Regions from separate parts of the Homo sapiens genome. Here region 2 is linked to region 1. The links come from fine-mapping of genetic effects on gene expression. A gene starts in region 1. The other region holds a variant in brackets. All regions are shown on one strand. Distances are between the middles of the regions. Region 1 holds the start of DHRS3 (dehydrogenase/reductase 3). Region 2 overlaps VPS13D (vacuolar protein sorting 13 homolog D).

Region 1 (5,372 bases):
GCTCATTTTTGTATTTTTTATAGAAACTGGGTTTCCCCATGTTGCCCAGGCTGGTCTCAAACTCCTGGCCTCAGGTGATCCGCCTACCTCGGCCTCCCAAAGTGCTGGAATTACAGGCATGAGCCACCGCACCCGGCCTGGATTCTGCATTTCTAACAGGCTTCTGGTCCAGGAACCACAGGGTGAGTGTGGATCCTCGCTGCACCGGGGGAGCTGAGCCACGGAAAAAGTTAGTTCTCCCAACTGCAGCTCGCCTCTTCCCTTCAAGCCCAGAAAGCCTCCTTTCACATTTTCAGGGACAGACCTGGGATGTGAAATTTCAAACTCTGCCCTGAGTTAAATTCCAGGAGAGGGTACAAGAGCAAAGGATAAAGGCTGGGGGAGGGAGGGAAAGGCAGAGAGGACGTGTCCCTGCTGTTCTCACTGAAGCCAGGCCACACGACCCTCAGGGCCAGCCTGCTGAACTGTGCACACACACATCACCCCCACACAAGGTCTCCTTGGCCCCATCTTCCCAGGGACCTCGGGGGAGGGCAACAGAGGAGGTGACAAGTTTCTCTCTGAGCAGTTGATGCTGGGAGAAACGTGTGGCTTGCAGAGCTGCCAGTCCCACAAAAACCACATCCTGAAAGATGGACCAAGTAGAAAAAAAGGCCACCATCCACCTCAGGCCAGCTTCTGGAACTGTCAGTTCCTTTGGGGAATGTCTGACATGTTCTTTTTCCCTCTGATTTCATCCCAAACCTTTTGAGAAGCAGGTTGCGTGGCATTGCACAAGTTACTTAGATTTACTGAGCCTGTTTCCTCCTGCAATAAATGGGCACGAGCCTCCCTGGGCTGTTAAGGAAATTCAATCAGAAACTGTGTAAAGGCCCTGAGGCACTAAAGGCCAATTTGGGTTCCCGACCTCCTTCCCACCGTCTGCCCTCCATCCCAGGCACACAACCAGAGAGATGTAAGAGGGACCTAACGGTTACCCAGCCGGTCTGGCATCTGACCGGGGTGAAAATGCATCTCTGTATATGAGTTGCTTCATATCTTTTGGCTTTAGTTTCCCCAGCCATAAAAGTGTGTTTGGGGTGGGGGAGGAGGACTATGATCTTCACAAGCCCTTTTAGACTTGGGGTGTTAACCTTACATGAGAGAAATGCCTGGAAGAAAAGCATGGCTAGTTAGCAGGAACGCCGCTGGGTTGGAGGCCGGGCAGCTCGGAGGCGCAGTATCCTATCTGGGCCACCAGGCGGCTCCGAGGACAACAGATGAGCAAAGCCCGCTTTTGCAGCCTGGTTCTGTCTTCAGATCTTTCCAGGCTTCTTCGCAGGCCTGGCGGACACCAGCCGCTGCTGGGTGGGAAAGGCCTGTCACTCCCAGGCTGGAATCGCTTTCCCATTTTTACAGACCTCGAAGATGAGAGGAGGCCGTCACCACAATGGATTCCGGCCCTGGGGTCTGATGGAGACATTGGTCCGCCCTTCGGTCAGACTCTTGGGGGCGTTAGGGGGGTGGGGGGGTCTCTGCTCTGCAACCCTTAGCTGAACCCCATCCTCCACTTCTCTCCTCCCGTCTGGTCAGAGTGGGAAGAGGTTTGGATTGGGATCCCCCCTCCTGCACTTCCTGGCTGGGTAACCTGGACGATGGGATAACAGTCCCCCGATTGCAAGGTCAGGGGAAGGACTGTGTCAGAATATAGGCCCTCAGTGCAGGACAGTTGCTCATCCTAAGCCTCTCCTGCCTTTTGCTCTTCCAGTGGCTTTTCACCCAGAAGGAAGATCCTCCCCTGCAGAACCTCTCCCCAGAACTAGGTCTTTGCAGGTGACGAGGTAATCCCAGCCTCCCCTCCCCGCAGATCAGCGTTTTTCGAAGTGACTTTCTCACCAGGCGGAGCATTGAAAGTACCGATCCCAGCGCACCCAGCCCTGCTGAATCAGAATCTCTGGGGGTGAGGCCCAGGAATCGCCGTCTGAACAAGTCGCGGGCTGGAAACGGCTGCCCCAGATTACAGGGCAGCTCCCTGCTTCGCTCTCGCTCCTCCGGCCCCGGGAACGTGCAGGGGGGCGGGAGGCAAGTCCCATCAGCACTTTGAACTGGGGCTGCTTTTTAGTGACTCACCTCCCAGACTTCCTGCAACAGACAACTCTAAATAGCTCGGTCCCACCCTCCAGCAGGGGAGACATTCCGGTCGGGAAGGGCAGGAGGTTAGAAGGTGGGTGCCCCGCCAGGGCAGTCCAGGGAGACCCAAGGACAGGAGACGCTGGCTGCACAGCACAGGGGCGCACGAATAGGACGTTTTGTTTACAGGCTTTTGTTATTAAGGAAATTGGTGTCAGTCAAGGTAATTCTAGCTCAGATGAGCAATAAATATGCTCCCAGCTAATCTTGTGGGGATTTTATTGGCACTCGGAGCAGAGGTTCCTTTACCTTGACTACTCCCTCCCCTCAAAGCAAAGTCCTGCTCCCCAGCGGCTTCCCCCTAAGCATCGTGAGGCACTTGGGTCAGGCTTTTAAAAGTCCACTCTACGTGAACACAGAAGAGGTCCGGGCAAAGGTGAGGAGTGGCTTCCTGATCCTACCTGGAGGCCGAGGATGACCAAATGACCTGAAATAAAACCCTGGGTGACCTGGTTGGATCAAGGCATACGCAAGCTCCCCCGGGCCTGCTCCACACTCGGGGTGATCACCTGGCCCGCGGGCGGCCCGGGCAAGGAGGAACGTCTCGAGAAGGCAGCCGGCTCGCCGGAGTCGGTTCCAGCGTGTTCGAGTTACAGCTGCGAGCCCTCAGGGACACCGGCGGCAAGTCCCGGCTTGCAGAGAGGGGAGCCAGTCCCGGGAGAGCGCGAGTCCCGGCGAGCCCGAGTGCGCGCCTTATGCGCGCTCCCCGCGACGGCGCAGGGGGAGGGGAGGCCGCAGCAGCCACTCAGAGGAACGGTAGTGAAGCCTCCCAACAACTTTAACTGTCAATCAGACTTAATGGGGTATTGAAAAAATGGGGGAAAAAGGGGCCGCCCTCTCCGCGACGCGGCTGCCCGGGGAGCGAATGAATAGGGCCGCGCAGACCAAGGCGTCCGATCCACGCGCGCTCCACACCCGGACCCTCTCCAAGTTGGAAAGGACAAAAAGAAGGCAATAAATGCTAAAAAGGGAGAGAAGGGGAGCTGGATCGAGCGGCAACTCCCAGCCTCTGCTGGAACAGAGAGGGAGGGAGGGAGCCGGAGCGAGCGAGCGCGCGCGAGGGCGAGCGCTGCACGTAAAGAAACTGACACCCGGACCCCCCACTTCTCCTGCACGTTGCTGGCAATCAGATCGCGTTTAAGCAATTTCCTGAGCCCAAGAATAGCAATGAGTCGGGAGACTTTCGCGGGCTGAAATTGGGAGCTCCAAGCACTTTTTCCCCCCACTTTTTTTTTTTTTTTTTTTCTGGAGACGGGGTGGGGGTGGGGGCGCTACAATTTGGAATCAGCTTTTTTTTTTTTTTTTTTTTTTTTTTTAATCTTGCACTTTGAAACCGCGGGACCGAGGCAGGGTGCGCGCGTGTGGTTGGTGCCTTTTTTTTTTTTTCTTCCCCTCCCTAAACTCCTCTGTCAGTCTGTAAACATTACCTGAGAATTCCCCAGCCGAAACGGCTGCTGGGGCAAGAAACTTCTTGTTAGAACTTTCCACCTCCGGCTTCCCCCTCCACCTCTTTTACCGTCCCAACCTTAGGAGACGCTTTTTCTCCCCCAGAGGAGAATTTATCTTTTTTTTTTTTTTTTTTTTCTTTTTCTCACCCGGTGCTTTGCATTTGGGAAGAGGTGATTTCAAGAGTGGCCAGGTGGGACGCCTCTCTCCTCCTTATTCGGTTTACTATTTATTGTTCGGGGTGTTTTTTAATTCCTGTATTGCTCGGCCCGGGGAGTTTCGCCCCCTGCCCGGCTCCGCGGCGCGGAGGATGGTGTGGAAACGGCTGGGCGCGCTGGTGATGTTCCCTCTACAGATGATCTATCTGGTGGTGAAAGCAGCCGTCGGACTGGTGCTGCCCGCCAAGCTGCGGGACCTGTCGCGGGAGAACGTCCTCATCACCGGCGGCGGGAGAGGCATCGGGCGTCAGCTCGCCCGCGAGTTCGCGGAGCGCGGCGCCAGAAAGGTACCAGGCACTGCGACTCCAGGGAGTGGGGGGCCGCAGGGGCGGGGGTAAGCCCACCTGCTGCCGCTGCGGGATCCCGCGCCCGGGAGCTGAGAGTCGCCGGCCACCCCACTTCTCCGCGCCACCCACGAGTGCTGAGCTAGTCGGTTTCACCTTGTAAATTTCCCGGGCACCGGACTGTCTTTTTTGGCAGGTTCAGAGTTGATCCGCTCCTTTGGGATCGGTGGCTGGCTGACTGGCTATTCACCCCCACCCTGAAACCTAAGAGACCCACCATTTCCCACATTCCTGCCTCCCAAAGGAAGGTGTTGTGCCCCCCTCCCCCGCCTTCCCCCCTTTTTCTTGCCGCCACCCTGGTGAGTGCAGGGTGTGCGCACTCCTGGGTAGAGCTGGGAGCCGCCTGCTAGCTGGCGCCTCGTATTTTCCTTGGCAACCCGCTACCCAGCCCCAACCTGGGCGGCTGCAGCTCTGAAGACACGAGAGAGGGTACTTGGTTTGGGTTTGAAAAGGGAAGAGCGGTCTTGTATGCAGTAGTCTGGCCGGACCGACACTGAGAGGCCCAGGTGTTTGGAAAGCAGGAAAGAGGAGGCCAGGGTAAGCAGCTACTGATAAAGAGCCCTTGTTCTCACCTTCAACCCTGTCCCCTCCCCCCCAGTACACCCCCCAGGGATCCCTCCCCATTTAGCTGGAAGGTGGTGCTGCAAGGAGGGTCCTGCCCACCAAACACGGCCTTTAACTTTTTGGTGGTCCTGGCACCCCTTGCTCCAGGTTTTGGAGACCTGGTGCCAGAGTGGGGAGAGTGGGCAGGCTGTCACCCAACTCCCAGCCCAGGCCAGGCTGACTCACGCGGTGACCAGAGCCATCAGGAGAGGGAGGCAGGCCAGGCTGTCTCCAGCCAGCCCTGTGAAGAGGAAGAGCGAAAACAGGGAATTAGTTTGAAACTTAAACTGTTGTGAACTAGGGGGGTGAAAGGGCCGCAAAGCCAGCTGATCTGACATGGAGCCGCATACCTTGGGGATTAAGTAAATATGTACTGTAGAAAACCAAACCTGCATGTAATTCCAGGTTGCTTTTGTTTTGTTAAATACTGCCCTGAGATTTACAATTCCTCCGGGGTGGCTCTGACTGGGACTGAACTTTGGAGCCTGAACTATCAGCCAAAGCCGATCCGATTAACTCTTCCCTAGCCGGGCTGGCCGGAGCCTGTGGTGGCCAAGCTAGCAGGGGTCTGGCTGTCCAGGACTCCCTCTTC
Region 2 (5,372 bases), 200 kb after region 1:
AAAAAAGAATAAATTCTCAGCTTTCACACATTATTAACGAGAACACCATACCACAGAGAAATGCTATTCAACTCGACTCTCTTACCTCCTCTTCAAGATACATTTCTACGCGGTGCCACAAAGATCTCTTTGGTAAAGCTACTTTTATGTCATATCACCCTGTGGCGCAAGTACACCTGTGATCTCACTACAAAAATGCTCTCTCCACAGTAAATAAGCAGAGAGTACAGGTGTTTCCTCCAAATGAGTTCATTCATGAAAAAGCCAGTCTCTACAAGAAAAGTGTGTTGAGATGAAAGGAAGAGAAAAAAAGCAGAGCTCTTTGGAGGGCTGTATGTCAAATAGCAACTACCTTCAACTCGCTTCACCTTTTCCAGCTTCGCATATAATCAATTCCTGCCAGAAAATACAGAGTGAACTAAGAAAATGTCCACGAATTAAGATGTCAGTGAACAAACCAGTCAACTAGCTGCAAGATACTGGAGAATGACATCACTGTCCATCTGCTGCTGGTTTCAGGTGGCTTAAAAGGTTGTTGTCATTATAGAAGGCTGTACTTCAGCTTGGACTTTCCCTGTAAACTGTGGGCAATAACTGGTAGATCTCAGGCAGGAGAATGGCACAATCCAGTGAGTTCATTCTGGTGGCACAGTGAAAGGTGTAGGGGTCATCGTGAAAGGTCCAGGGTGCTGGGGGCTATTGCAGTGACCCAGGTAAGACATACGCAATGCCTGGACTAAGGCAGTGGCAACGGAGAGGAAGGAGGAAGAGGTATTTCAGAGGTGGACTCAGTGCACCTGGTGGCAGGTGACTGGAGGTGAGGAAAAGGCAAGGCATGTGGGCAATGAAGCAAAAGCCATGAATATAACTTTTCACAGCCCATTAACTATAAAAGAAATTGTAGTACTGTAGAGGACTCGTGAGGTTAATTATAATGGAATTTCACCTCTATTTCCTTACCTTGGCAGCAGAGTTTGATACTCCGTGTGTAACATTTCTGATGAGGCCCCCGACATTTCCATATTTTATCAGTCCAGTAACCCCTTCAGAAACATCATTCAAAAGCCCCATAGGATTGCCAAGAAAATCCACTGATCCCAGGATTCGAGCTGCCTGGCTGAGGAGTTCCTGCCAAATGGAACAGGAAGAGAAAAGTCCAATCAGCATCTACTTATATTTGCAGATACCAGTGTCCCAAGCGAAGAGCTTAGAAATCTATTTTGTTCTCCATTCTCATTACTACAAGTAACGAGATTAAAAGCTTTTAATCTTCATCAACTGCAAAATAATCTCCTGTCCTTTCAGGAGCACCACCTAAGCTTCTCCCAATACACATATCCCAATACACATACTCTTCCAAGCCAGTTAGAAGAATAAAAATAGCTATGAAACAGGAAGCATTCTTATGAGTATTTGCTACTATATACATCATACTCTCCTTTTCATCATGCCTACAAATAGAGAAGTAATCACCAGCAGGGAGAATTACAAAAGGAAAGTGAGGAAGAGAGGTAGATTTACAGTTCCTCTCATAAGCTGTGGTGTGGGTGGGGGGCCTGAAGAAGGCATGGAGAGACTTATCAAGCAAACCTCCACTGTTTCTTTCTCTGAAGCAGGGTCTCAGTCACACAGGCTGAGGTGAGGTGGCATCACCGTGGCTCACTGCAGCCTTGACCTCCTGGGCTCAAGCAGTCCTCCTACCTCAGCCTCCCGTAGCTGGGACTACAGGCAAGACCTCTACAACCAGCTAATCTTTTTTTTCTATATTTTGTAGAGATGGGGTCTCAATATGTTGCCTAGGCTGGTCTTGAACTCCTGAGCTCAAGTGATCCTCCTGCCTTGGCCTCCCACCAAGTACTCGGATTACAGGTGTGAGCCACCATGACTGGCCCCTCCACTCTTTCTGTACTTCCAATTGCCTGATCCCAGGTTCCAGTGATATCTGCTGTATCACTTTCCTTAGTTAGGTGGAAATATCACCAATTAGGATAGTCAAAAAAGGAAACGGGGAATGGAGAAAAGGAAGTGAGAATAAAATATATTTTAACTTTGAAAGCTATTAAATTTGATACGATCTTGACCTATCTATTCATTGAAGATTATGCCTTGCCTTTACTTTTTGATCTTTGCAGTCTGGATAATAAATACAAAATGGAAAATGTCCAAGGTGATTTAAAAAATTTCAAGTTCAACCCAAATGCAGGATCCCACAGACTCTAAGAACATGGGTGTAGTTGCTGAAAGAAGGCCCATGCCTGGTAAATAAAAACATTATTTTGTTATTATTAAAGCATCAACTAAACCATTAAGAGTCATGATTAATCTAGCAGGAACCCCTCAGACTAGCTCTGAGGGATGAAACTAACAGCTCATAGGTCAAATGTACTATCTCAGGATTTTCATGACACATACGGGCTTCTTGGGAAGTGACCTGACCCGTAACACAACAGAGTTGAAATGTTTAACTGGGTTCTCAATAGTAATGCCTTAGTAACCAAAATTCCCAAACAACTAAAACAAACATTCTGCTTATGCTCCAGCCAATGATTACTTCTCCAAGCCTCACCTCCTGGAAATGTTTGAGGATATCATTGATGATGAACTCCTTGGTCTCATAGGGATGTACCCGAGTGAATGGATCTAGATTAATCACAGCGTCTTCAAACCGTATCAAAGGAAACCCCAAGGTGCTTTTTAGGGCCTAATTAGGGAAGAAAGGAAATGACATACTTAAGTCATATGATGGCCTTCTGTGATACTATAATTCTAGATTCCATTAAAGCTACAAGTCATGTTAACTTTCGAATGAGGGTCAGGTTTTGATGTTTATAAATAAGGATTTTCCCTATAACTATAAAAGTAAAATACTAGGGAAAAATACATATATAGACAGACATATATCACCCAAGTCACATGTATCACACAGAAATAAACACTATCAGTTTGTGTCATAATTCCTTTTAGTCTGTTTTGTATCTGTTTGTCATGTTTTACTTTTTGACTGATGTAAACCACACACACAGAAAAGTATACTAATCAAATGTATAGTTCAAAACCCAAATGATTTTTCCCAAAGTGAACACAATAATGTAACCACCACCAGATCAGAAAGCAGACTGTTATCCCCATCTTGGAAGCAGCCCACTCACCATGAGCATGCTCCCACTCCCTCCTCCTTCCTCCCCAAAGACAACCACAGTGATGACATCTATCACTACAGGTAAGTTCTTCTGCTTTAAACTGCATATAAATGGAATCATCAGTATGCACTTCGTTGTAGGTGGCTT[CTCATAGACAACATTA/A]CATATGGGGGTTTCCTAGATTGTTGCATATAGCTGTAGTTTGTTAACGTCCATTGCCATATAAATACTCCATTGCAAGAATAAAACAATGTATTTAACCACCATTGTTGATGAAAAGTTCAAAAGTTGGGTTGTTTCAGGCTTTTTGATATTATGAATAATGCTGCTATAAACAACATTAGACATGTCTATGGCAGACTAGATAACAGGTTCTCACTCTGTTGTCCTGGCTGGAATGCAGTGGCACAATCACAGCTCACTGCGGCCTTGACCTCCTGGGCTCACGCGATCCTCCCACCTCAGCCTCCTTAGCAGGTGAGGCTACATGTGCAAACTACCATGCCCAGCTAATTTTTGTATTTTTTGTAGAGAAGGGTTTTCACCATGTTGCCCAGGCTGGTCTCAAACACCTGGGCTCAAGCAATCCGCCTGCCTTGGCATCCCAAAGTGCTGCGATTACAGCTGTGAACCACTGCTCCCTGCCTAGCTATGTCTTTTGGGGCACATTTATGCATTTTTCTTGGACATATACCTGGGAGTGGAACTGGGTCATAAAGAATGTACATGCACAATCTTAATATATTCTGCCAAACAGTTTTCCAAAGTGGTCAAACCAGTTTATGCTCCATTCAGCAGTCTACAAGATCCCTTGCTATTCTACACCCTCATCAACACTTGGTATAGATCGTTTAAAAAAAAAAAAAAAGATATTCTGGCTAGGAGTGGTGGCTCATGCCTGTAATCCCAGCACTTTGGGAAGCTGAGGTGGGAGGATCGCTTGAGGCCAGAAGTTCAAGACCAGCCTGGGTGAAGAAGTAAGACCTTGTCTCTACAAAAAGTTTAAAAATTAACTGGGCATGGTGGCGTGCGCCTGTAGTCTCAGCCATTCAGGAGGCTGGAGGAGGAGGATCACTTGGACTTTGAAGGTCAAGGCCACACTAAGCTGAGATCATGCCACTGTACTTAGCCTGGGTGACAGAGTAAGACCCTGCCTCACTCTTTCTTTCTCAAAAACAGAAAACAAAGTCTCTGTTGCCCAGGCTGGAGTACAGTGGCGGGATCTTGGCTCACTGCAGCCTGGACCTCCTGGGCTCAAGTGATCCTCCTGCCTCAGCCTCCCCCTACAGGTACATACCACCACGCCCAGCTGATTTTTTTTTTTTTTATTTTGGAGAGACAGGGTCTCACTTTGTTGCTCAACTCCTGGCCTCAAGTGATCCACCCATCTCAGCCTCCCAAAGTGCTGGGATTACCGTGGCTGACCCTGTCACTTAAAACAAACAACGACCAAAAACAAAAACAAACAAACAAACAAAAAAACACCCAGAAAATCTGAACAGTGTGTAATGGTATCTCAGCATAGTTTTGACAGATAAACTGATGGGTGTGTAATGGTACCTCAGCGTAGTCTCTTTTCAGTTGAGAAGTGAGATTAAGCAACTTTTAAATGCATAAGCCATTTGGATATCTTTTTGTGAAGTGCTTATTGAAGTATTTTGCTCATTTTTGTAGTGAGTTCATGTTTTTTATTTCTTACTGCTTTGTAGGAGTTCTTATATATTCTGTATACCAAGTCCTCTGTTGAACAGATGTGTTGCAAATATCTTCTTCCATTCTGTGACTTATCTTACTACTCTTTAAATGGTGTCTTTTAATGATCAGACAGTCTTAATTTTAAGGAAATCTGCCTTATCAATATTTTCTTATATGGTAAGAGCTTTCTGTGTCCTGGTTAAGAAATTTTTGTCTACACCAAGGTCATAAAGATATTCCCACGTTTACTTATACAAGTTTTATTGTTTTACTCTTCACACCTAGATTTTATTTATGCTCCACCTAGAATTTATTTTTATGTACGGTAGGAGGGAGTGGCCAAGATTCATTTTTTTCTGATAAATATTGAACTAAGTAATATTTACTGAAAAGGTCATCCGTTCCACTACCGCAGTATGGCATAAATGCTGTCAAAAGTCACGTGATGGTATTATACATCCATTTCTGGATTCTCTCTTCTGTTTCACTTTGCTCTGCTTTCTACTAATGCCACACTGTCTTAATTACTGTAGTCTT

Evidence for each region. PIP is the estimated chance that this variant, and not a neighbour inherited with it, causes the effect. A credible set is the group of variants that fine-mapping cannot tell apart.
Region 2: its variant is the best candidate, but not a certain one, in a credible set for the expression of DHRS3 in whole blood (INTERVAL, PIP 0.73).

Annotation. Positions count from the first base shown.
Region 1 is chr1:12,615,902-12,621,273 of GRCh38, reverse strand. It overlaps DHRS3 (dehydrogenase/reductase 3), which reads left to right and starts at 3,064. Exons shown (of 6, transcript NM_004753.7): 1 at 3,064-4,120. The coding sequence starts at 3,926. RefSeq lists a silencer at 1,057-1,308 and enhancers at 1,544-2,175, 2,176-2,807, 2,808-3,439.
Region 2 is chr1:12,412,416-12,417,787 of GRCh38, reverse strand. It overlaps VPS13D (vacuolar protein sorting 13 homolog D), which reads right to left. Exons shown (of 70, transcript NM_015378.4): 64 at 2,567-2,701; 65 at 961-1,128. Among named protein-coding and RNA genes, the nearest start is that of SNORA59A, 92 kb to the left of the region's middle. The variant CTCATAGACAACATTA/A (reference allele first, on the strand shown) is at 3,288.